Homo sapiens: one gene and its partners. The protein of the gene in region 6 purifies or fractionates together with the protein of the main gene of each other region. This does not show direct contact. Each region holds a gene or a part of one and is shown on either strand. Other genes may lie near its edges.

Evidence for each region.
Region 1: the proteins of TMEM63C (region 6) and ZNF787 purify together in Homo sapiens (affinity purification with mass spectrometry; one large-scale study listed by BioGRID and IntAct). This does not show direct contact.
Region 2: the proteins of TMEM63C (region 6) and SLC30A6 purify together in Homo sapiens (affinity purification with mass spectrometry; one large-scale study listed by BioGRID and IntAct). This does not show direct contact.
Region 3: the proteins of TMEM63C (region 6) and DNAJC18 purify together in Homo sapiens (affinity purification with mass spectrometry; one large-scale study listed by BioGRID and IntAct). This does not show direct contact.
Region 4: the proteins of TMEM63C (region 6) and FAM241A purify together in Homo sapiens (affinity purification with mass spectrometry; one large-scale study listed by BioGRID and IntAct). This does not show direct contact.
Region 5: the proteins of TMEM63C (region 6) and RNFT1 purify together in Homo sapiens (affinity purification with mass spectrometry; one large-scale study listed by BioGRID and IntAct). This does not show direct contact.
Region 7: the proteins of TMEM63C (region 6) and SNX14 purify together in Homo sapiens (affinity purification with mass spectrometry; one large-scale study listed by BioGRID and IntAct). This does not show direct contact.

What each region holds. Positions count from the first base shown.
Region 1 is NC_000019.10:56,118,496-56,122,464, reverse strand, and holds the start of ZNF787 (zinc finger protein 787), read left to right. Parts: upstream 1-1,169; 5' UTR 1,170-1,293; intron 1,294-3,969. UniProt on the Homo sapiens protein: May be involved in transcriptional regulation.
Region 2 is NC_000002.12:32,217,864-32,221,363, reverse strand, and holds part of SLC30A6 (zinc transporter 6), read right to left. Parts: intron 1,152-3,500; coding exon 651-1,151; 3' UTR 1-650. UniProt on the Homo sapiens protein: Has probably no intrinsic transporter activity but together with SLC30A5 forms a functional zinc ion:proton antiporter heterodimer, mediating zinc entry into the lumen of organelles along the secretory pathway.
Region 3 is NC_000005.10:139,412,615-139,415,525, forward strand, and holds part of DNAJC18 (dnaJ homolog subfamily C member 18), read right to left. Parts: intron 1,659-2,911; coding exon 1,534-1,658; 3' UTR 1-1,533.
Region 4 is NC_000004.12:112,144,253-112,148,253, reverse strand, and holds the start of FAM241A (uncharacterized protein FAM241A), read right to left. Parts: upstream 2,801-4,001; 5' UTR 2,674-2,800; coding exon 2,521-2,673; intron 1-2,520.
Region 5 is NC_000017.11:59,961,941-59,965,871, forward strand, and holds the start of RNFT1 (E3 ubiquitin-protein ligase RNFT1), read right to left. Parts: upstream 2,801-3,931; 5' UTR 2,724-2,800; coding exon 2,668-2,723; intron 1,345-2,667; coding exon 887-1,344; intron 677-886; coding exon 600-676; exon of another isoform or gene 423-599; intron 1-422. UniProt on the Homo sapiens protein: E3 ubiquitin-protein ligase that acts in the endoplasmic reticulum (ER)-associated degradation (ERAD) pathway, which targets misfolded proteins that accumulate in the endoplasmic reticulum (ER) for ubiquitination and subsequent proteasome-mediated degradation.
Region 6 is NC_000014.9:77,247,798-77,251,297, reverse strand, and holds part of TMEM63C (osmosensitive cation channel TMEM63C), read right to left. Parts: intron 2,952-3,500; coding exon 2,789-2,951; intron 2,532-2,788; coding exon 2,426-2,531; intron 2,008-2,425; coding exon 1,840-2,007; intron 1-1,839.
Region 7 is NC_000006.12:85,517,359-85,520,858, forward strand, and holds part of SNX14 (sorting nexin-14), read right to left. Parts: intron 691-3,500; coding exon 650-690; intron 518-649; coding exon 398-517; intron 1-397. UniProt on the Homo sapiens protein: Plays a role in maintaining normal neuronal excitability and synaptic transmission. May be involved in several stages of intracellular trafficking. Required for autophagosome clearance, possibly by mediating the fusion of lysosomes with autophagosomes.

The DNA of each region.
Region 1 (3,969 bases), on a different chromosome or scaffold from region 6:
ACTTACTATGGGCCAGGTATTGAACTAAGCAGCTCTTACACATATTACCTTGCAGGTTATCTTATTTTTTCCCATTCCACAGATGAGAAATTGAGGCTGAGAAAGGTGTTATTCCACCAGTGAATTATAGCTTCTTATCTTTTCTGACTACCAGTGAGGATGATAACAATTATAAGCGATAAGTCATCTGCCACTTAGGTGAGAGTCAGCCAAGTACAGAACAGAGGAAGGACCAGAAGGACCAGCCTACAAGGACACTATGGTTTGGACAATTATTTTAAAATATGTGTTTTTTGCAAGAATACCAACAGTAACAGCTAACACCCAGTGCGTCCTTACTAGGTGCCTACCTAACGCGGGGGAAGTAGTGGATTCTCAGGGCTATGACACGAGGCAGTGTGTACAGTCAAGGGTTAAATACACGAATTTAGAGCCAAACTCCATGGGTTCGGGCCGAGGCTCTGGCATTCCGGGTGTGTGACTTTTGGTAGGTGATTTGACTCCTCACCTGCAACATAGGGATAGGACCTACCATGAGGCCCTAGTTAGGACTAGGACCTAGTGCGTGTGAAGCACTTGGAGGCGCACAATGTATTTTCATCACTTCAGAAAGGAGGAAACTGAGGCCATGGCACCTGAAGCGCAGCACTCTCTGTCCAGTAACTAAGGAACCCGGGGTCTCTGTCCAGTAACTAAGGCACCTGGACTCGGGCCACTGGGAGGTGCAGCGGCAGAGAAGGGGTTACCATGATAGAGACGGTAGGAGGACCCGGGGTGGCACGAGCGTCCCTCTCCACCACTTCACTCTCCTCACGGCGGGCCCGGGGACCCGGCCGCGCAGGCGCGAGGAGCCCGGGTTGTCGGGGGGGCACCGCCCTAGACACCCGGAAGTCTCCGCCTAACGGGCCCAGCCCGCACCTCCTGTCCGGGAAGGGGGCGGGGCCGAAGCCCCTCGGCGCGGGGCGCCATAGAGCATGGACGGAGGACCTGCGTCCTAGACACTTCCGGAAGTGGCTCCCTCAGGCGCCCGCCGGGCACCACAGAGCTGGGGGCGGTGGCCGGGATAGCGGGCTCGCCTTCCTAGAGCGGCGAGGACAGGGTGGCGGCCCGGGGGGCAGGGAGTAGGGAGAAGGGGGGGAGCGGCGCGGGCGGAAGCGGCCGGGAAGGTCACTTCCGGCCTGGGCGCCCGTCCCCCTGACCCCAGGGTCTGAGTCGCCGCTGCCGCCGCTGCCACCATCCGCGAGGCAGGAGAGAGGAGGAGGAGTGCGGCGCGGCGGCCCCGGGACCAAGGAGGTGAGGGGTGGGGGCGGGGGCCGTGCGCTGGGGGCCAGGTGGGCGCGCGCTTCGGGAAGCTGGGCTTGGGCTGGGGGTGGGTGGGGAGACTGGAGGGCGAGCGCGACTGGGCGGCGGGCGCGCGTGCGCGCTGCTGGGGGGGCGTGAGTGGGCGCGCGGCCGGGGTGACGCGGGCGGGGGGAGTGCGCGTGCGCGCCGAAGAGCTGTGGGAGGGGACGCGCGCCCGGGCGGCCCGCGGGCGGCGAGCGGGGCTGGAGGGGGGGTGCGCGTGCGCGGGTCCGGGTCCAGGGCGCGCGCGTGCGCGTGGCGGGGGCAGGAGCGGGGGCCTCGGTGGGGGTCCCTCTGCTGCGGGCCGTCGGGGGTGGGGCCGCTGTCCGTCCCCCCGAAGTTCCAACTCCGCCGGTCGTGGCCGGAAGTGGTGGCGACTTCGGGGGGAAGTTGAGGCCCAGGTGGGGGAAGGGGCCGCGCGGTTGGGCTGGCCTGGCCGGATACCGCGGCCCCGAGGGCACGGTCTCAGCCCTCGGCCCCCCCAGCCCTTCCTTCCCCTTTTCGAGTCAGCCCGGGTCCCGTTGCTGCCCCGGGCGGGCTGCGCGTGGCCTTTGATCAGGCGGGTAATTACGGGGATTCTGGCCGGCAGGAGGCCCATTCATTCGTCCTTGCTCGGCAGGCGGGGAGGAAGCGCGTCCCCAGCGGGGGAAGTGACTGGGCCAAGGTCAGCCACCGCGTGGCCCACGGGGCAGGGCGAAGGCGGGGACTGGATCGGGTGGCGACTCCTGAGGCCTCCCTCCCCTGTGCCGAGTGGATCAGAGTGGAGCCCCGCCCTCCTGACACCCCACCCCGACCCCCAGTCCAGGGAGCTGACCCCAATTCATGTGGATGAGTGCTCTGGGACCTGCAGAGTCGCACAGAAAAGTGACCCACAGACACAGAAGGCAGGAGTGAGTGGAGGCAGAAGTTTTTCCAGTGCCAGGCCCTGTGCCGGGCACTAGAGACAGGGAGCAGGGAGATGAACAAGGGCTTGGAGTCTGGGTGGAAGGCAGAGACTGAGACCCGGGCGACAGAGTCGCCATCCAAGGTGACCAGACCCCTGATGGAGAGGTCTGGGGGCTGTGGGAGCCAGGGAAGGCATTTTGACCCAGCCCAGTCCGGGGGATGGTCAGGGCTTTAGGGAAGGAATGGCTTGGTCTGCTCTTTGCGGTGTCCTGCTCCCAGGTCCCATGTTGCGCAGTGCTTAGAACCCATCTGGGGATCCGATTGACCCCAGCGCCGGGAAGCACAGTTGCGTTGATCCTGGCTTAGCTCCTCTGAAGACCGTAAGCCTCTTTGGCTAAACGCTGCTGACATTCACCTGCCTGCCTCTGCGCAGTCCCTGTGGTCCTCCGGCCACGCACGGCCTCAGAGAACATCCAGATCAGATTCCTGCTTGCTTATCTCATGTCTTATCCATCCATCCGGGCACCCGGCCTGGCCCCTCCCTGGTGCACTGCCAGAGTGTGTGCAGGCACTGGGTTGTATTCCCCAAGAGCTCTGGGACTGGGCAGGCCTGGGTTCAAGTCCCAGCCCCACCACTCACCTTCGTGGCCTTAGACGAGTAACTTCAGTGCCTTACTTTCCACCAGGACAGAGTGGGAGTGGTAATAATAGTATTGACCTCAGCGGGAAGGCTCTTAATGCTTTCATTTTAGAGCCAGAGCAGACCTCAACAGATGGGTGTAAAGTAAATGGAAAGGGCTCTGGAGCCAGGCCCTTTCCTGGGCCTTGGCCTTGGCACTGTCTCTTCCACTTCTGTGACCTTGGACATGTCACTTCCCTTTTCCCAGGTTCAATTTCCCTTCAGTTGTCTAAAAACGAGAGCAAGTTCACAATTCCCTGAGTAAATGTAATCCATCCAGGCGGCTGCACAGGCCAGGCCCTGTGCTGGGCATGAGGTCACACATGGTCTTGGCACAGCACTGTCCTGTGAGGGCCCAGATGAGGTGCCTGGCCCAGCCTGGGTGAAGAGAGGGATCTCAAGGCCCTTCTGTGCAAGCACAAGGTAGAGTGGTGCTCCGTGCTGGGCAGCCTGGCAGGAATCATACAGTCCCTGTCCCAGAGCAGCTGAGACCCATTCACACTGGGCAGAGGGGTGGGGAGATTTGCCAGAGTGCTCCCGGGAGCTCTGACCTTGAGGGAGGGGTGTGTGGTGCAGGGGAGGTATTGTGTCTTGAAAGATAGAGAGGAAGGATTGGCTACCAGGAACCTGGTACTTAAGGGAGGATGACAGTGGGCTCTGGGCAGGGAATGGCAGGGGTCACAGCTCAAGGCCACCAGCAACTGCCTGGCTGCCCTGGGAGGTCTTTTGTTACTAGGCATACACAGCTCTCAGGACACCCATCCTCAGACATGTTTCACAGGCCTTTCCAAACCTCGTTCGTGTGTCCTCTGGTGCATCCTGAGGCCTCCAGCCTAGTGAGGACTGTGCCAGGTGCTGGGGCCTCTGTGGTGTGAGAAACTGCAGATTCGACAACACTTGCTGGTGCACACTTTGCAGGAACCTGGCCCAGTGCCTGGTCCTCACTGTCCTAAATTCTCAAGGCTCTGGGATGGAGGTGGTCACCTCCATTTTAGGGGTATGGGATGGAGGCTCTGGATGGCACTTGTTAGCCCAAGGCCCCCAGCAGCTTCAGAACCTGTGTC
Region 2 (3,500 bases), on a different chromosome or scaffold from region 6:
ATGGTGAAATCCCCCGTCTTTACTAAAAATACAAAAATTAGCTGGGCGTGGTGGCAGGTGCCTGTAATCCCAGCTACTCGGGAGGCTGAGGCAGGAGAATCATTTGAACTCAGGAGGCAGAGGTTGCAGTGAGCTGAGATCATGCCACTGCATTCCAGCCTGGGCGACAGAGTGAGACTCCATCTCAAAAAACAAAACAAAACAAAAACTAAGGAAGCCTTAATAAAGTACAGCCTTAAGTTAATAATAATGTATTGGCCGGGCACAGTGGCAGAGCAAGACTCCGTCTCGGAAAAAAAAAGAAATATCGTATCTTAGTAATGTGACAGATCTACTCCATCAAGTGGCTCTTATAAAGGTAAGGTCACATCACACTGCAGTCAACTACAAAACCAAAGATACCAAAATCCAAATTTAAAGAAACACATTTTCTAAAGGAAGCCTATTTAAAGCCTTTAACATTTACGAGGATTTCACTGTCACAAATACATTTTACAAAAATATAGTTTCATAGGTTTCATGAAATGTGAACAAGACTACTATTATCTAACATTTAGAGTAAATGATTAAACAGTCAATGCAAAGTTGGATTACTAAATAAATTGGAAGCCAAGGAGTCAATATTCCTTATAAAAATAAGTTAGAGTCTATCATGGTCTTGGTTGTCCAATTCTATTATTAGTTCCATATCTACTTGGTATATTTGTAAAACCAGTCCTCAATCCTTGAGTTGCTCCAATTCCTGGAACTCCAAGTCCTTGATTAAGCATGCTGCTGTAAGGTGTGTGTCCATGATTGAGACCAAAACCATAAGGCCTTGTTTGTGTGTTTAGAAGAATAACTGGGTTCACATTTTTCCCAGGAGTGTTAAATGAAAATTCTGGAGGTGGACTACTAGGTTTAGCTGGAGTTGATGTAACTGGGTTCAAATCATCAGTACCCTTTAAAAGAGGCATTGGGATTACGTGATGATCTGAAAAGTTTAGGACATTGGCTGCAACAGGCCCAGACAATAAGGCAGGCCTAATCCAGTCATCCTTGAAAATTTGAACAGTTAGAGTAGACACTAGAGTGTACAGCCTGTTGGTCACATGAGCAAGAACCATTTGTTCATTGGCATCTCGTCGAATTCTTACATGCACTGATCCAGCCTAAAAGGGGCAAAATCATAACAAAGAGATTGCTTAGAATTATACTAACAAAAAATTCATTAGATAAAACATTTTATTTATGATTTGGTAAGTTCCTGGCATTTTCTTTGAAAGAAAAAGCTTAATGTTAATATTTCTTAAAGACTACTTGCTGGTGATTATCATTGTAATGAGTTAAATAATTTGTGAATCTTTAAAATACAAAAAAAGAAATATCCATGTAGGAACAAGATAGGAATATTATAATACAAGGAAGAATATAAATGAAACATACAAAAAATACAATGTAAGAGCCGAAAAGGTAGGTATTAATTCCAATTGAAGAGGACTTCAAAAGAAGATGGCATTTAATCTACGGTTGGTGATTAAACAGAATTTCAAAAAGTAGAGACGCATTCCACACTGAGGGAAAAGCAATGAAAATGTATGGCATACTTGGTAAGAATAAGCAATAATACCAATATATAAAGAAGTCCTGGCCGGGCGCAGTGGCTCACATCTGTAATCCCAGCACTTTGGGAGGCCGAGGTGGGTGGATTACCTGAGGTCAGGAGTTCGAGACCAGCCTGGCCAACATGGTGAAACCCAGTCTCCACTAAAAATACAAAAAATTAGCCAGGCATAGTGGCGTGTGCCTGTAATCCCAGCTACTTGGCAGACCGAGGCAGGAGAACAGCTTGAACCCAGGAGGCGGAGGTTGCAGTGAGCCAAGATCGCACCACTGCACTCCAGCCTGAGTGACAGAGTGATATCCTATCTTGAAAAAGAAAAAAAAGAAGTCCAAGTATTTCAGGGGGCAGAAGAAGGAGGAGGGAGAGAGAAGAGAGGGAGAGAAGGAAGAGAGGAAGGAAAGAAGAGAAGGAGAAACAGAGGAAAGGGCTGGGTGTGGTGACTCACGCCTGTAATCCCAGCACTTTGGGAGGCTGAGGTGGGCGGATCACCCCTGACGTCAGGAGTTCGAGACCAGCCTGACCAACATGGTGAAACCCCACCTCCACTAAAAATACAAAAATTAGCCGGGTGTGGTGACATGTGCCTATAATCCCAGCTACTCAGGGGGCTGAGGCAGAAGAATTGCTTGAACCTGGGAGGCGGAGGTTGCAGTGAGCCGAGATCACGCCATCGCACTCCCAGCATGGGAAGAGAAGAAGGGAAGAAGGAAGAAAGAAAAATGATAGGTAGGTAATAAGGTTAAAAAGAGGCTACCAGAGGACTCTAAAATGATAAAGAATTTCAATTTAACATCTGCAACCTAACAGAAATAAATAATCAGAGTTCAGAAAAATTGTAGGTATAGATGACTGGAAATCAGGTAGGAAAAAAACTTCAACAATCTAGATTATAAATGAGGAGAGCTGCCAAGTGCAGTGGCTCATGCCTATAATCCCAGCACTTTGGGAGGCCAAGGCAGGTGGATCACCTGAGGTCAGGAGTTTGAGACCAGCCTGGCCAACATGGCGAAATCACGTCTCTACTAAAAATACAAAAATTAGCTGGGCATGGTGGCATGCACCTGTAATCCCAACTACTCAGGAGGCTGAGGCAGGAAAATCACTTGAATCCAGGAGGCAGACGTTGCAGAGAGCAGAGATCATGCCACTGCACTCCAGCCTGGGAGACAGAACAAGACTCTGTCACAAAACAAAACAAAACAAAACAAAACAAAACAAAACAAAACAAAACAAAACAAAAGAGGAGAGCTGAGCCAGGCCAAAAATAGTGGGATCAGAGAGGGACAGACAGATATATCATATTCCAGAGGTAGTAATGGAAGGACTTGATACCCAGCTGGAAGTAAAGGATGAGGAAGATTGACTCATCAAAGATGATATCAAGGCTTCTAAGGGATAGAGAACACCAGGCATTACAATGAGAGTTAGAAGTATATTTGTTAACTTGAAAAAGTGTTTACCATAAATTATGGGTTTTTTTGGTTTTGTTTTTTTGTTTTCTTTGTAGAGATGAGGTCTCACCGTGTTGCCCAAGCTGGTCTCGAACTCCTAGGTTCAAGCGATCCTCCTGCCTCAGCCTCCCAAAGTGCTGGGATTACGGGCGTGAGCCACCATGCCCGGTCCATAAATTATGTTTTTAAAGTAGATAATCAGCAAATGATCCTATTTTGGTTAACACAAACACACACACACAGACTCCCCCAGCCTGAGCAACATGGTGAAACCCCATCTCTACAAAAAATAAAAAAAATTAGCTGGGCGTGGTGGCACACATCTGTAGTGCCAGCTACTCAGCTACGCAGGAGGCTGAGGTGGGAGAATTGATTGAACCTTAGAGGTCGAGGCTGCAGTGGCTGCACCACTGCACGCCAGCCTGGGTGACAAAGAGAGACCTTGT
Region 3 (2,911 bases), on a different chromosome or scaffold from region 6:
ACAGTCACTTAATGATCCTTCCAAGTTCAGAGTCATGATAATTCAGGCAGCTCAGCTCCACAGGAAGGCCCAGAACCACACAGCCCAGGCAGTGACTGAATTCTTCCTAGTCACCAGTGGAGGGCTGCCTGCCTGTGAGGGACCTCTTATTTTGTGTACAGAATTTATGTTAGACAGGGTCCTGCTTCCTAAAGAGCAGCAGGGATGTTGTCCTGAACAGATGCAAGATTGCCACAGAAAAGATGAGGGGTCATGGGGTTGGGGAGGACGGAGGCATCCTCGGGAAAGGTTCTGCTTTGCCAGTCTGGCTAGAATCACCTGAGACATGAGGATGCTCTCCCACTTTCTACTTGACACTCAGCCTACCGTCTTGCTCTGCCACTACAAGACCTGGGTCATCCTCTCTGGGCCAATGTTCTCATTCATAGAACCAGGGATAATACATCTACTTCAGAGTTGTGAGGAGGTTTAAGTAAGAAAATATGTGTGAGAGCCCCTGCTTTTATAGTAGGCACTCAATAAATGTTGAATGAATGAAAAATCATCTCAAATCACAAACTATAGGATACTGGGTTAAACAAAGTGGCTGCTGGGGCCAAAGCTAGACCCCCATATCCAAGGAGAGAGGATCTGTCTCCTCTATCTCTAGGCTTGAGCAAACAGCCTGGAGAGCTGGCAATGCCTCCTCCTGGGTCTGACCATCTGCCTCTGTGGGATGTAGGAACTCAGCCTAAGTGCGATGACACCAATGATGATACTGAGGGGAAATGACCGAAGGGACATTCTCTGGGTTCTATGATGGAGTAGGGAGGCTTCGTGGAGGAGATGAGGCTCGGTCTTGCATTATACCTTCGCCCTGGCCCCCGCCTCCAGATGCTGCTCAGTAGTTTTAATTTCTGGACTCTCTAAAGGAGAGAGGGTTAAGGAAATAAAGGAATCTCAAATTAGGCAGTTTGCTAATGCTACTAACTGAGCAGAGATTGGAATAATAGAAAACTATTGACTACAATAGTTTAAATTTCTCCATATTCCCCTAGAAAATGGAAAGCTGGGCAGGAACATGTTCCAAAGGCTAAATCTTGGCGGAGATGATGACTCTAATGAAGGGAGAGGTATAATTCTTGGTAGACAGTGTAAATAACTAATATTAAGCTTTGGCTAAGCCTAGGAATGCCTGGTTCTTAAGACTTCACTGAAGAAGGGAAGAAGGAAGAAAGCATGGATCTGCTCTGGGATGCCCTGAACTCCATTCACATAGGCAGGGTAGGCATGGAGCAGGGAGACGGAATCCAATGCCTTGCCATTAATTTAACTTAGATGAACTACTCCTGGTCCCTGGAGCCACTCCCCAGGAAGGATCCTGTGAAGACACATCTGGCTCTCGTGCCCATGCTCCTGCCACTCTGCCCAACCAACGAAGTTAGCAAATAGTAAAGTGTTCATCATTACCTAGTTTTGTATTATAAAATGGAATCAGGAACATAAATAGGAACAAGTAGCAAAACCCCAGCCCTGCGTAGGACCATTATCCTCTCAGCCACCTCTGCGTAGGCCAATGAGTTTGGAAAGTTTCTCACAGTTTTCAAGTTTCAGCGACTCTGCTTTCTGTTTCAATCGTTCATCTCTGTATAATCCTGCCAAATTTGTCAGCTCTGACTCTGAAAGATAAAAGAGGTAACCAATTCATCAAGAGCTGAACTCCTTTGTTTCATTTCAATGTTTCTGGAGTCAAAGCTCCTTTTACTTCATTTCAAGCTTTTTCTTACAATTAAATATAAGAAACATTTAGTCATTTATTCACAAAACACGTCTTAGGTACTAGACCAGGTGTGGAGGATTAAAGGGCACCTGTGACCCTGCAGTCCAACAGTATCTGTGCTCTCTTATAAAAGCACTGGACTTAGTTCTTACCAAGAAAACATTTGGCACCAGACTTAGGAAACCTGCGCATGTGCAGTGAGACCACCCTATAGCCTCCTACAAACGGGATTCCAACAGCAGCTGGGAGAGAATGGAGTCCAGTGGCCTATTCCTGTCATCTGAAACAGACAGCTGCTTTATTCTTCTCCTGCATTGCTGCATCATAACTCACATGTGCGAAGGCACACAGAGCCTACTGCTGCCGGGTGTGCGTCCACAGAAGGCCAGGGCACTACTGGCGCTGTTCATTCCCTCACCACACGTAGGGTCCCCAACTCAAAGGCCAAAGGCAGCTGGGCCTTTCTAAAAGTTGAATCATCTGGATCCGGTGACCTTTGTCTCCTTGACTAAATTAATTTCATTTTCTCTTTATGGTGGAGAAGGTCATTCTATTTTTAACCAGAATATAATCTCTGCTGTGTTTCCTGACTCAACAGTGGTTTGGTTGCCTCTATTTTTTATTCTTTTGTGAGGTTTCAGACATATTCAGGGAGGAATGCCTGAAGAGCACCTTTAGAGACGTATTGCGTATTAACAGGATGGCATGCTTGGATGTGGTGTGTGTTTCCTGAAAGCCTCCAACAGCAGGCAGCTACTCAATGTTTAAAGGACCAGACTTGTAAAAATGCTATTTTAATTGTTTTGAAATATGCCTATCTATTCTTAATCATCTTGCTGACAGATTTTGTTTTTCTTGGTGGAACGAAAGACACCTGTCTGATTAATCAGCAAACTGCCTGGAAACGGAATTATTATTTAGCCAGGGGGAACAATGGGCATTGCTTTCTGAATACGTTTCTATCAACACAAAACACTGTCTGGCATTTCTGTGCACAATGATGCTATTTACCCCCAAGTAAGGCCCAAAGTGCAGATTAAGTGCAGGACTCCAGAGTGAGGGATGGATATGCATAAAAACCCTCCCTCTACAATGGAGGCCGCACAGCCTGGGCTCTAGCCCAGCAGTTGCTTGGCAAGCAGTGGGTCTCCC
Region 4 (4,001 bases), on a different chromosome or scaffold from region 6:
CCTTTCAGACAGAAGTGGAAAGAAAAATCAGTGAAGGAAGGGATGTATGTGGACGAGGATTTAGCTTGAGAAATAGCCCAAGAAAGAAACCTCCATCAAATTATTAGGAAAGGGCAAACTCTGTGAGGGGAATAGAAATAGAAAGGGACTTAATACAGAAAATTAGGTGTTGACAAAATCATTGAAAGAGCTAGAGGAGCACAAGTCAGGTGCCTCTGGAGCTATGGTGTTCAAGAGCATACAACCATAGCTCTTTTCTGGGTTAAAAGGAGCGCCTCTGCTAGCTCCTGCCTCTAATTTCCTCTCAATACCCATGAGGCTATCCATGACTCCGGAACACGAAGTGAGCGTGCCAAGTAGAAAAGACGGCAGGAAGATGGCCTCTGTCTCATTTCCAGCTAATTAGTTTTGGTTCTGTTCCTGTTTATATCATTGTTTTCATGGAAAAGTTCACCTTAAGTTCTAAATCATTAACTTAGAAACCAATCTTTCAAAAATATTCCATTTGTAATCTGGAGTCCTTGTATCCTTAAACCAACCAACAGGACAAACAAAAATCATCTCCCTAAATAAAAACTAAATAAAATGAGTCCTTGGGATATGTTCCATAGTTGTTAATTTCATTTCTTCCTCAAATATCTTTACACATGTAATACTATTTCTACCATCATTACATGGCAATGCATAATTTCATTTACAGAACTTGAAAAAAACTAGAAAACAAGGCTTTGTGATAACATTACCAAGAAACGTTTTATCAGAAAAGCTTGCTTTTTACAACAATGGGTTGGGTTGCACCAATTTTTTGCTTATTTTTGTCTTCTTGACTAATTCTTCTTTGGTGCTAATGTAGTAGGAAATGCCTATCTCCGGTGTGATTTTCAATTATTGTGTATGGGGGCTTAGAATACATTAATAAATCTTGAGGCAAAAACAGAATGATAAAAATAACACTTCAAAGGAGTACAGGAGAATGAACTTTCATGACATTCAATGAAGGAGGCAGGTATGCAAAGTGATATGTTTTCTAAGATGTACTTTTCATTTTTTGTTTTATCCTTTTACTTTGTACCATAAGCAATTTTGGAAAGACCACAACTATTAGTGATGTCTACATAATCATACTAATGAAGTACACAGAAGCTTAAATGAAGTATTTTTATATGCTCCCTTACAACTATTTGAAAATTTACTTTGGAAACCCCTGCTCAAATGCAACCCCTCCCCACCCCCAAAGGAATTCTTGTGCTGTCTTCTTCACTTTTCCAGTTAAGCAATTTAAGTTAGAGGAAATCAAGCCCTTGAGCAAATGAATAGTTAACGGGAAAAACCACTAGGAAGGGAATCCGAAGAACAAGCTACCAAATTATTTGCTTGAGTCACTTTCTCTTATATTGTCACAGATGAAAAATTACACTCCACGTGGTGATCAAACCTAACGCTAAGGCATATTTTGTGTGCCACACAGTATTACTCTGTTTCCTAAGTAACCTATTGAAACAATGTAAGGTATACATCTATTAATGCATTTAGTGATGATACTGGAATTTGTGAAACGTGACAGAAAGGACAGATGAAGAAAGATGAGGAGAGACAGGTATTAATTGTCCTAACAGTACAGGCTGTAATAAAGGCCAATAATCATTTGAATTCCTGCTCCTTAATGTGAGTCTAAAGAGCGGCTTACCTCAGGTATTTGGAAAGTCTAAATACTGTATTTGCTGTAGAAAATTCATCCAACATACAATTCAATTTTTAAAATTAAACCTTTTGCCTAATCTTTAAGATATTTGATGTTATAATGCCCATTATCACACTTTATTTAAATGAGATAAACTCAGAGAGTTTAAAAAATTACGCAACTTCTCTTTTCCCTTACTATGGCTGGCCTCTTATAACCGAAAGCAATATTCTTGCCTCTCCACTTTTTAACTGAAGCTTTGATCTCATCTGTATTTATGAAGAACGTGCTCTGGGAGAGTCCCTGTCAAGACATTCATTGTAACACCCGCTCCTACTCATGCTTTCAGCGCTGCCCGTGGACGGAATCCACCCACACCTTCCAGACACGCTAGGTGTGGGCTCGGAAACGCAAGATGGAGGGCGGGAGGGGAGCCGGCGTCTCCTAAACCTGGCGCAGGGCACGGACTCGAAGTTGAAAAAGAAGTGTTTACAAGTGAGGCTTTTAAATAAATCACCGCTATGGAGGGCATTTCCTCCGAGCCCTGGGCGCCAGCCTGAGAATCCTCTGCCGGACGCCAGGGGACGAACCACGCTGACCCCGCCAGACACGCGACCCCGGGGCCGGCGCTGGCGTCTGCACTCGCGCGACCCCGCCGCTCCTCCTGGGAGCGCCGTCTAACCGCTCCCGGCGACGACTTCCCAGAGCGCCGGGGAGCCAGTGCCCACGCGGGGCAGAGCTGCGGCGCGGCCCGCGGGCCGGGCCCCTTCCCTCCAACGCCGGGCGGGGCTCGCGGCCCCCGACCCGGCCGCTTCGCCGCCGCCCCTCCCCGCGCTCACCTGCTCGCTCTCCTTCGGCCGCTGTCCGCGCCGCCGCGGGCTCGCCCCGGGATCCCACCCGGTCCCTGCCGCCTCCCGCTCCGCCAGCGCGTCCCCGTCCTCGTCGCGTTCCCCGCCGTCGCCGCCCCGCAGCAGCTCCCCGGCTGAGCACATCCCGCAGCCAACTCCTACCGCCCCGGACAGCCGCCGGAGGACCACGCCGCGACGCACCAGGCAGCGCCGCCGCCCGAAGGCTGCCCTGGGATCCGCCGCACCCGCCGCTGACAGGAGCCGCCGGAGCGCGCCCCGCCGGCCTGGGCGCCTGAAGTACCAGCCCGGCCCCTCCTGTCACTGGCTCGCCCAACCCCCGGCCGTCGGGGCGGAGCCGTACAGGGGAGGGGCCAAGACAGGGGGCGGGGCCAACGGTGTGTTGGGGGGCGGGGGTGTGTGTGTGAGATTGAGAGAGAGGCCGACAGACTGAGAGAAGAAGGGTGTTGTGTGAAAAACTATGGACATACACTGCATGAGGGAGATTGTACATGAGAGAGGCTGTGTGTATGTATGAGGGATATTGTGTGTGCGTAAGAGACCGTTAGAGAGTGTGAGAGAGACGCTGAGCGTGATTTGTGTGTGTGTGTGAGAGAGATTCTATATAAAAGAAACTGCGTATAAGAGATTGTATGCACTTTGGGAGGCCGAGGCGGGCAGATAGCTTGAGCCCAGGAGTTGGAGACCAGCCTGGGCAACCCCATCTCTACTAAAAATAGAATTAGGCGGGCGTGGTGGCGGCAGTGTGGTCCCAGCTACTCAGGAGGCTGAGGTGGGAGGATCGTCTCAGCGCGGGAAGTCGAGGCTGCAGTGAGCAGAGATCACACCACTGCACTCCAGCGTGGGCGACAGAACCAGACCCCGTTTCAGAGAGAGAGAGAGAGAGAGAGAGGAGGGGGGGGGGAAAGAGAGAGAGAGAGAGAGAGAGAGAGAGATTGAGATTGTATGTGTATGCAAGAGACTGTGAGAGAGAGATTGTATGAGGGAACAACAGAAACTGAGAGAGATCAAGTGTGAAAGAGAAATTACTTGTGTGAGAGAGCCAGTGCATATATTTAAGAGAGAGCGCATTTGTATAAGAGATTAGTGTGTGTGGGTTTGTATGTGAGAGAGAAACACACACATGCACCCAGTTACACTCTCCAGCAGAGTACCCCTGTTCTTGCCTGAGTATCTGCCCGTCCTTTTCAAGGAAGACACATTTCACTGTCCCTCTTGTTCCTTTAGCCTCCTTTCCTAGTGTCTCACTGAAGGTCTGTGTATTTGTCCCTTTCTGTTGAGTGCTTCCTAGTGTGTGTTGTTTGTTGGAGCCTTGGGTCGTTTGATGGTGTATCAAATGATGTATCTTTCTGTAACTGGGTAAGAATATGTCTTTCTCAGTGGGTGGTGAGGGGAATATATCCAATTGATAATTATTTTTTGTACTACTCCATCCATTTTATTCAAGGAAAATG
Region 5 (3,931 bases), on a different chromosome or scaffold from region 6:
AGTGGTGCGATCTCAGCTCACTGCAACCTCCACCTCCCAGGTTCAAGTGATTCTCCTGCCTCAGCCTCCCGAGTAGCTGGGAATACAGGCACATGCCACCACACCTAGCTAATTTTTTGTATTTTTAGTAGAGACAGGGTTTCACCGTGTTAGCCAGGATGGTCTCAATCTCCTGACCTCATGATCTGCCCGCCTCGGCCTCCCAAAGTGCTGGGATTACAGGTGTGAGCCACCATGCCCAGCCACTAAAAGTTTTTCATGATGATGGTCTTACTTACTATGGTCAAAGTAACTGATACAACATGAAGGGACTTGCCAAATCAGATCAGATACCGTGTTCTAACTCTTTTAATCCTTTTTACTACTTTAACAGTAACCAATTTTTTTTTCTTACAAAGAAGGTAAGGTGAAGGAATTCAGCATTAGGAGAGATAATTTATTCCAGGATTTAGATAACAAATTTAACATAACGTGGATGTTACAATATATCCTATTACTTCCTATTTCTTTCAAGTTATTTCCTATTTCTCTCAAAATTATTTCTCTAAAATCTATGGAGAGAAACAGTTAATAATTTTTTAGTTGCTTGTTATACTTACTCTTAGAAAAACCTGATTTACAATGCTTTTGTTTGCATACATAAAAGTTGTTAGCAGCCCAATTCCAAGAGAAATTCCTGTTAGAAAATAAGTTCCAGTTAATTGAAAGAAAAAAAAATCAAAGAGGATTATATAAGCTAACAATGACACAAATTAAAAATAAACATATACAATAATAAAAGCTCACAGAAAATAAGTAACTGGATGCATTAAGTAGATTACCAATAATGAAAGAAAATTAACTGAATTTAGGAATGAAAACAAGTCAATGTTTTATTATGTCCTACCTGTTATATGCTGCATAACAAGTTTGACGCTCAGAATCAAAATATATGGAAGACTTTTTTGCAGCCACTTGAAGAGATAGCGGAATTCTGAGAAGGAGCTACTACCATGATCTCCAGATTCTGCGGCAGTATCATCAGTCAGCCTTGCTTCACTGTGGGAGTGACCCCGTAAGCGACTGTGTACACATCCATGGGCACAGCTATGGACACCTGACCTTATATTTCTGGAGCTTGCATTTTCTGCACATTCTTTAGGTATGGAGTTTATCTGGATATGAACATCTCCAGAATGAGGGCAAGAACCCTCTCCTGTCAATCTTGTGTGGACACACTGAGGGGTTGAGGCATCCTCACTGCTTCCAGTTCCTGGAGGACTGTGCAGTTGGCTACGATTGGCTTGCATGGCCCTTAAATACTTTTTCTCTGACCCAGATGTCTTTGCTTCAGGCCTCTGTCTCCTAAAAAATCAAATAAAAGATATTCTAAGTAAACAGGCAGTTAAATACCAGCAGTATATTCCTCACTGGGTATCCTTTATTCACTAAAGGAGTAGCAAATAATCACAACAGATGAATTTTCAGGTTATTTATCACTGGACTCCTCCCTTCTCCCTTAATGCCAAGGCTCTGCTGCCCTACACAAATGATCTTTTAGGGAACATTTGCACCAAAAAAAAAAAAGTTGAGCTGCAAATGCTTCCAGTTCTCTAATGGCAGAAGGCATCCGCAAAACAGTCATGAAGTATGGGTACCCAGCAGATGTTAATGAGCACCAGTCCTCACTGGGTACTCTGGTACATTTACTTTTCCCAAATGGTGCAGTTTCATCTCTGATGTAGATTCTACATCAAAGAAGTTTCATAAGGAAGAGTGAGCCAGTATTTTTTAATGGTTGGAAATGTTAGGAAAAAAAACAACATTAAATCTTAATGCCTTATTATCATCATAGGTAACTAATAATAAACACTGCACTTAGGTGACCTACAAATTAGATTTTCTGCTCAAGCAGCTTTCCCAAAGCTCATAAAGTTTCCAATAATTAATGGTGCCACCAATAATATTACCTCCCCGCGCAAAAGAATGTTACCTAAATACATTTAAAGCATAGATACTTTGGAGAGTCACCACGTAATTGCTAGGTAACTCTTTAGTCTGAATAAGCAGTTACACAGTCCGCCCAATAAAATGCCACCGTCGGTGGTGTGTGTATTACGGAGGGAGGGGTGTGAGGAAAGAGGACTCTAGCAGAGAAAGATCTCTCTAATAAATGATCCAGTGTGGACCTCCTAGAAACAGAAGAACAGAGTCGGAATCCCAGCTGACAAAACGCAGAGGCTATCCCACACTGCCGTGCTTTTCCCGTTTGTCTAGGAGGAGGCTAGAGTTAACGTCAGGGAATGTTCTGTGTCATTCTATTTCACTCCCAGGACTGAACAGTGGTGCAGTCACCGTGTCTGGCGGTTTGGGTTTCAGTGCTTTTCACTAAAGGCTTTCACCGAGGCCCCGACGCCACGGGTGTTATTTCGTCAAAACTGAAGAGCGACGTTGGACAGCAGGCTTTCAGTGTCTTTTCTATAAATAACATAGAACCCTCCCACTTTCCTTCATGCACAGACAAGAAAGAGGAGAAAAAAGGGAAGAAAATTCAACACAACTCTTCCGGAATCTCCGAGGGCAGAGTTCTCCACCCACGTCCGAGCCTCGAGTGCCTATTCTCCCCAGAGCCCCCTGCGCCGCGGCCCCTCGCCGCCTCCTCCTCTGCCCGCTTCCCCCAGGCCTAACCTCTCATGACCAGAAGCGGACGGAGGTGTCGGGAGCGACAGCAAGAACAGCGGCATACACCGCCTCCAGCCCTTCAGTCGGGGCCATCAACCGCAAACCCCGCAAGCTCTTCTCTCAGCCCGGCGGCAACGGCGGCGGCGCGCGCGCTCCCCGGACGTTCTCACGCGCGCGCGCGCGCCCTGCCCCGGCTCCACCTCCTAGCCCCGCCCCCGCACCGCGCCGAGTGGAGAGCTCACGGCTGCCGGGGTGTTTTGGCAGCGAGAACAAGCGAGCTGCGCCTGAGAACGGCCTTCAGGCCTGGCGCTAAATAATAAGTCGTTGTTATGTGTTATGTATTTATGTGGCATCCACCACACGCCTCCGAGATCCTGGGCGTTTTGAGGTTAAAAATGTTCAGGCTTGGAGAACCTACCCCTGGAGGAGTGTTAGGGTTTCCGGGCTCGGATGTCCGCGAGCTTGACGCCTGACCTAGTTGTGTCTGTCTGGGCGGTGACGTTTGGTCTGAGCTGACCTTTCCTCACAATCGTGAATTTGGGCTGTGAGGATCAGGCCTTGTCAGAACCCGAGATGAGAGGAGAGAGGTGCGGAGAGTCTGCGTGGGGTGGAAGTAGAAGTTAGAGTTGAAAAACCTGTCTTGCGTGGGGTATAGAGGACCCTACTGCCCTCAAAATAATTATGTTAATCTAAAACTGTTCTAAAATTAAAAGGTTATTAAGAAAACGAAGTTTAGGTCGGGCGCAGTGGCTCACACCTGTAATCCCAGTATTTTGGGAGGCCGAGGCGGGCGGGTCACTTGAGCTCAGGAGGTAGAGACCAGCCTGGCCAACATGGTGAAACCCGTCTCTATTAAAACTACAAAAATTAGCCGGGGGCGTTGGCTCACACTTGTAATCCCCGCTACAGATACTCGGGAAGCTGAGGCATACGAGAATCACTTGAACCCGGGAGGTGGAGTTTGTAGTGAGCCAAGATCGTGCCACTGCACTCCAGCCTGGGCAACAGAGTGAGTGAGACTCGGTCTCAAAAAATAAATAAATAAAATAAATTCTGTTAATCTAAAACTGTTCTAAAATTAAAAGGTCATTAAGAAAACGAAGCTGAGGAGGGGAGTGGTAGCTCACACCTGTAATCCCAGCACTTTGGGAGGCCAAGGCGGGTGGATCACAAGGTCAAGAGATCGTGGCCACATCCTGGCCAATATGGTGAAACCCCGTCTCTACTAAAAATACAAAAATTAGCCGGGTGTGGTGGTGCGTGCCTGTAA
Region 6 (3,500 bases):
AACTAGGTAAATGTTGTTTAAATTATGCTTTACAGCCAAAAATCACTGCTTAATGATGCTTACTGCAGTGTTTTTATAGTAGCAAAAAGTGGCAAACCTCAATATCCAATCACGGAGAACTGACTAAAACTGGTAGACTTTCATGCAACCGCTGAAAGGCACCTACGTGTTCAGTCTTTTAACAACCTAGGAAATTGCTCAGAACATTGTGTTCAGTACAAAACCTCAGGGTACAGGACTGAATGTTACAATATGGACTATCGCAGTTTTGCAAAGTAACAATAGACCAACTGCTCCCTCTCAATGTTCCCATGCCCAAAGCCCCAAAGCGCATGCCTGGAAAGGGGGCTGGGAACAAAAGACATCAGGTTCTGGGTAAGATGATGGGTCATTTACATGTTGGTCTTTATATTTTTTCTATTTTTGATGATAAACATGCAGTCCTTTATTCTTAGAAAAAAAGCATTATGGAAAAAATGAAGTCTCTGGGGTGGCAGGGAAAGGCTAGCGGGATAAGCAATTGGGGGTGATGGCAAATGGGTAAGCCACATAAATGACTGAGAGTCGACCGTATGGATGCCACCATGGCAGGGAGAGAAAAGAAAACACTGCCTCGGATTGCCTGAGCTCAGGAGTTCGAGACCAGCCTGGGCAACATGGTGAAACCCTGTCTCTACTAAAATACAAAAAATTAGCGGGGCGTGGTGGCACCCGCCTGTAGTCCCAGCAACTCAGGGGGCTGAGGCAGGAGAATAGCTTTAACCCGGGAGGCGGAGGTTGCAGTGGGTCGAGATCAGGCCACTGCACTCCAGCCTGGGCGACAGAGCGAGACTCCGTCTCTAAAAACAAAAGAAAAAAAAAAAAAAAGAAAGAAAACACCGCGTCTCCCTTCTCCCACCACTGAGAAGGTTAAGGTCAGGTGTCTGAGGGAAGGGCAGTGGGGTTGGGGGTTGCTGGGGGTTAAGGTGCCTCCAACGGGGAGAAAGCTGAGAGATTTCTAATCTGTGGCCTGCAGGGACTGCTTCTGGGAGGGTGTCTCTGAGCTCCCCTGGGCAGGAGCAGTAGCTGTGTGTAGCTAAAGAGTGAGGAAAAAGCTGGCCCCTACTGCAGGCTCTGTTTCCTCTTCCAGGTTTTTTGGCAACCCATAAAGCCAGGCATCTACCACTAGGCACCGGCGGCTTACGCTTATAATCCCAGCACTTTGGGAGGCCTAGGCCAGGGGATCGCTTTAGCCCAGAAATTCCAGACCAGACTGGGCAACATAGTGAGACCTCATCTCTACAAAATTAAAAACAATTAGCCAGTCATGACAGCTCACGCCTGTAGTCCCAGCTACTGGGGAGGGGGAAGTGGCAGAATTGCTTGAGACCAGGAGGTCAAAGCTGTAGTGAGCCGTGATCGCGCCACTGTACTTCAGTCTAGACGACAGAGCAAGATTCTGATTCAAAAAATAAAATTAAAAAACAAAACAAAAAACCAGGCATCTTATGGGATCCCAGAGGAAATGTCATGGGAACTGAGCCTCCCAATAGCTGATACTCTATTTTCCACCCGTCTAGACTTAGAAAGAAGGAATATGAGGTTTCCTTCCCTGAGCGCTGGAAACCCAAATCCACACCTGGGGACCATGTTGGTCCAGGGCCTCCTCTTAGCCTTGAAGCTCAGCTGAGACTCTAATGTAGGCCCTTTAGGCCCAGAGAAGTCACTGGGTGTGGCCAGGTCTGGTGAGCAGCGTCTTGCCCTGCCTGGGCTTTTCTCCTCTAACAGGGTCAGTGTTAAGGGACTCACAGAACAGTGGGGCAGGTGGAGGTGGGGTCTCCAGGCTGGCTTGGTACCTACCCAACCGCAGGATGGAGAAGAACAGCATCCAGAACAGACCCAAGAGTGGCGCAAAGATGGCCTGGGAGACGGCAGCCATGTGGATCTGCTCGTTCAGTTTGGTGGGTGCAAAGGAGTAGTACATGTTATAGCGATCCGTCAAGTGCTTCATGCACAGGTAGAGCAACCCTGGGGGACAAAGGTGGAAACTTACTCAGTGGCCCCTTCAAGTCTGGACCTTTGTGGCTCCAGTGTCTCCACAGGCCTGAGAAGCCAGATCCACGGCTGTCAGAGTCACAACAACCAAGGATGGGTTGGGGGAGCTCCGTGGTACTGACCTCCGGAGCCAGCAGCTTCCCTTGAGCCCCGAGAACTGACTGTTTCAGCTTGGTGAAGAGTCATTCTCTCATGCGTTCATTCAACAAACATCCCCCATCGGCAGCCATCCAACCTCAGCTGCCCTGTACCCCCAGCTTGGCCCTGGCCCTGACCCCTCCCTACCACAGGTCTCCCCATGCTCCAGGAGGTGGACTGATGTTGTGAGGCTCAATTCCTCCTCCCCATCTGCGGATGTGCAGCCCTTGGGCATGCCTTGGAGATGACTCACCAAAAGGCACAATGATGGGGCAAGTGATGCTGTACGCCATCACCACGCTGAACACGTTCATCATCCACGCATACTCACGCCCAAACTGGAAGTCTATGGCCTGGTTCTGGGGCAGAAGGCAGGTGTCACCCTGAGGTGGCCCAGTCCCCTTGGCTTGACTACTTCTGTGGCTCCTCATCAGCCTCCTGGCAGCTCAGGCCTGGAGGCAGCCTCCTTTCCAACCCTGTAGACCAAGGTGCCCCACCAACACCCATCCACACCGTCCCTCCCACCTCAACCCCCTTGGTGCTTCTAGCAGGCTCTATCCCTGACACCCTCCCAAAGGAAACTGAGGGCTGTGCTCAGCGGAGAGCCAGTCTGTACCTTTCTGATGTTGACTCTCTCTGGCTCTGATCTAGAGAAGAAGAGGCGGGTGCTGTAGCAGAAGAGTGACCCCAGACGCAGCAGCTCCATGCCTGTGCCAAGTAAAGCTGCCGTGATCACGTAGTTGACAAAGAAGGCGCCGTTGTCTGGCAGGAACACACACCTGGGCAGTGAGGGAGAGGGAAGGTGGCAACAGAAGCCACAGGGAGAGGGAGAGATGTTAAAAGGGAGGAGAGAGAGGAGAGCAGCAGAGGGAATGGGAATCGGAGTGGAGATACAGATACAGACAAGGAGAATAACATTTCCTCTCTTTCTTTTTCTCTGTCTCTCTCCTATAATATATATGTCCCCAACCCAATGAAGTTAACAAGCAGTCCCCTGAGCAGGGAGGGGCAGGGACCACATAAAGCATGGGTGTGTTAGGGGATACATGCATTGGCTTGATCCAAAGCAAGGGTGTCTGAGCCAGGTCCAAAGACTCGGGAGAATCCATGAGTGGGTTTCTGGGGGGTCTGTAAACTAGGATGGGAAAAAATAACATCTTTATTTTCACTAATCTCTAACTGAAATTTAGCATTTTCTTGCATTAAGAATGTGGGCAATACGGCAGGGCATGGTGGCTCACACCTGTAGTCCCAGCACTTTGGGAGGCCGAGGTGAGCAGATCACCTGAGGTCAGGAGTTTGAGACCAGCCCAGCCAACATGGTGAAA
Region 7 (3,500 bases), on a different chromosome or scaffold from region 6:
TAATAAAATGTTTGTTTAATGAATGGATAAAATACTTTATAAGCCATGAAAGTTAGGTAATGCCATCCAATAAACATAAACACAGTATAGCAATTAATTTCTTATTATTGAAAGTTGGTGACATATAACCTAAGAAAACCACTTTTAAAAATCCCCAAATACAGAAGTGGCATCAGTTTGCAAATATAGTATCCAGAGAAACATTTACCACATTAAAGCAAAGAACCAAGTAATTACACACAATACCCTCTGTATACCGTTCAACTGATTTCCACATAAAGGAAATGTATAGCTCAATCCATTTCATTAACAAAGTATTCATTCTCTCGACAATGAAAAAGTAATCTCAAGTAGGGCAACTTAAAACTTAATAGTTCTTTAATGCAATGTGCAGTACCTTCTTGTTGTTTTCTGAAGTAGGGCTGAGAATGGTCAGTTCTGGTCTACTTGGTTTAGGCTTTGGAGACTCACAAGAATTAATGAAATTCATGATAAAAGGTTCCAAATGCTGACCTTTCTGTGGTGATAGATTATTGTAAGAAAATAAAAAATAAAGGTAATTTTTAGTACATAATCCAGCAAAATTTATCAATATTTAAATATGTTTATGATTATCATGTTATAGAACACACATAAATCAGTTACTCACCTCTTTCATTAGTTTTCCAGGAACAGATTTTATAATTTTCCCTGCAATTAAAAGTAAAACATTATTTTAGGAAGGCATAAAACTCTTCATAATTGCTCACATGAATACTTAACCAGGTAATTTTAAATACGAAATAGCCAAGTTAAAACTGTAAAAGTATTTATGATTGACCATTTCACACTCCATGGAAATTTTCAATAAATATGGTATTCTGAAATATTTATAGATAGAATATTTGGGATTTACTTTAAAAAAATCCAGTGAGGTAAGTGGTGGGAGAAGGGATGGAACAAGCCAAGGGTTGATAACAACGTTGAGTAAGAAGTTTATTACATAATTTTGTCTACTTTTGTGAAAATTTCTATAAGAAATATTTTCAAAGGGTTTTCAGTAACAGTGAATATATAATGGTATCTAAAGATATGCAAAGGTCAGTCAAAAAAAAGTTTTAAGAACTGCCTCAATATTTAAAACTATTTCAGTAGTTTATATTCTGAATTTTAGATTAAGAATTTCTATTCTAAATCCTATGTTTGCCAAAATTACTTCTTGATCTCCAGCTTCCCTTAATTTGAAACATCAAACATCTTGAGATTTTCTCCAGCATTTAGAAATGACTTAAAAATCAATCAAAATTGATAAATACAACTTAAACTGCTTTCTGAACAAATCAGAAAAAAGTAGATTTATGGCAATAGAAGGGGACATTAATAATAAAGAATAAAAATACTGTTTTGTGACAGGCAAACCACCCAACCTTCCCATTTGGCTATTTCTGGTATTTCTGGTTCTCATAACACCCCCTCCTTAGAATGTTCCCAAGTTCTTTAAATTATATGGTTTCATCCTATGCTTTTCTGTCTTCTATGTGTTCTTACTGAGCCAAATTATTTGCTCAATCTGATTTCAAATAAAATTCAAATCTCTAATCTCTGCCTGTCTCCTGGACTCTCCTGCTTTATAAAACTTCAACTGGATTCTATAAACTCAGTAAGTTCAAAACTGCTCTTAATGTATCCCCTATTCCAACAAGTAACAGCATTCATCCAGTTATTTAAATAGAAACTTGGATCATCCCTGATCATTTCTTCTTCAATCAAACCTAGTCAGTAACCAGGAATACCCAATCTCCTAAATGCCATATATAACCAAATATTTTGTCCTCACTTTTTTCCCCCAATAAAAAGATACACAAACACTAAATATTTTGACTCAAATAAATGTATTGATTTGGGTGGGGGTGTGGGTATAGACAGAAGCCAAATGTCTACTTGCATTATTTAACTCACTGATTTAGTTCCATATACATTACTTCAGATTACATCATATAAAATATATTTAGAGGCTAGTCAGGGTGGCTCCACGCCTGTAAGTCCAACAATTTGGGAACCTAAGGTGGAAAGATCAATTGAGGAGTTCAAGACCAGCTTGGGCAACAAAGCGAGATCCCATCTCTACAGATATTTAAAAATTAGCCAGGTGTGCTGGTGTGTACCTGTAGTCTTAGCTACTTTGGGAGGCTGAGGCAGGAAGGATCACTTGAGCCCAGGATTTGAGGCTGCAGTGAACTATGATTGTGTTGGCTGGGCGTGGTGGCTCACGCCTGTAATCCCAGCACTTTGGGAGGCCGAGGCGGGCGGATCCCGAGGTCAGGAGTTCGAGACCAGCCTGACCAACATGGTGAAACCCCGTCTCTTCTAAAAATACAAAAATTAGCCGGACGTGGTGGCACACGCCTGTTATCCCAGCTACTAAGGAGACCAAGGCAGGAGAATCGCTTGAACCCGGGAGATGGAGGTTGCAGTGAACTGAGATCGTGCCACTGAACTCCAGCTGGGTGACAGAGTGAGACTCCGTCTCAAAAAACAAAACAAAACAAAACAAAAAAAAACTATGATTGTGCCACTGCACTCCAGCCTAGGCAATAGTGTGAGACTCTGTCTCTAAAAACCATAATGAATACAAATGAATAAAAAATAAAATATATTTAGAAATATTGCTTTTATACAGTAGTAGTAGTAGTAGTAGTAGTAGCAGTAGTAGTAGTAGTAATAGTAGTAGAGATGTAGTCTCACTCTGTCGCCCAGGCTGGAGTGCAGTGGCATGATCTCGGCTCCCTCCACTTGCCAGTTTCAAGCAATTCTCCTGCCTAGGCCACCCAAGTAGCTGGGATTATAGGTGCACGCCACCACGCCCAGCTAATTTTTGTATTTTTAGTAGAGACAAGGATTCACCATGTTGGCCAGGCTGGTCTTGAACTCCTGACCTCAAGTGATCCACCCACCTCGGCCTCCTAAAATGCTGGGATTACAGGTGTGAGCCACTGCAACTAGTCAATGCTATATTATTTTTTACCTTTTTTTTTTTTTAGATGGAGTTTTGCTCTGTTGCCCAGGCTGGAGTGCAGTGGTGCAATCTCGGCTCACTGTAACCTCCACTTCCCAGGTTCAAGCAATTCTCCTGCCTCAGCCTCTTGAGTAGCTGGGACTACAGGCGCCCACCACCATGCCCAGCTAATTTTTGTGTTTTTAGTAGAGACAGGGTTTCACCATGTTGCTCACACTGGTCTTGAACTTCTAAGTTCAAGTGATCCATCTGCCTCAGCCTCCCAAATTGCTGGGACTACAGGTGTGAGCCACCACGCCCAACGATTTTTTAACAATTTTATTCAAACTTTTCCAGCTTACACTAGTTTGGTCTGTTTTGATGTTTATGTAAAAAGAATCAGACTGTATATATTCTTTCATGTTTTGTTTCTTTCATTCAACATTTTTAAAAGTTCATCCACATTGTTGCTAGTAGCCTCATGATATGGGTATTCAACGTTATGACTTTACCACAGTTTATCTGT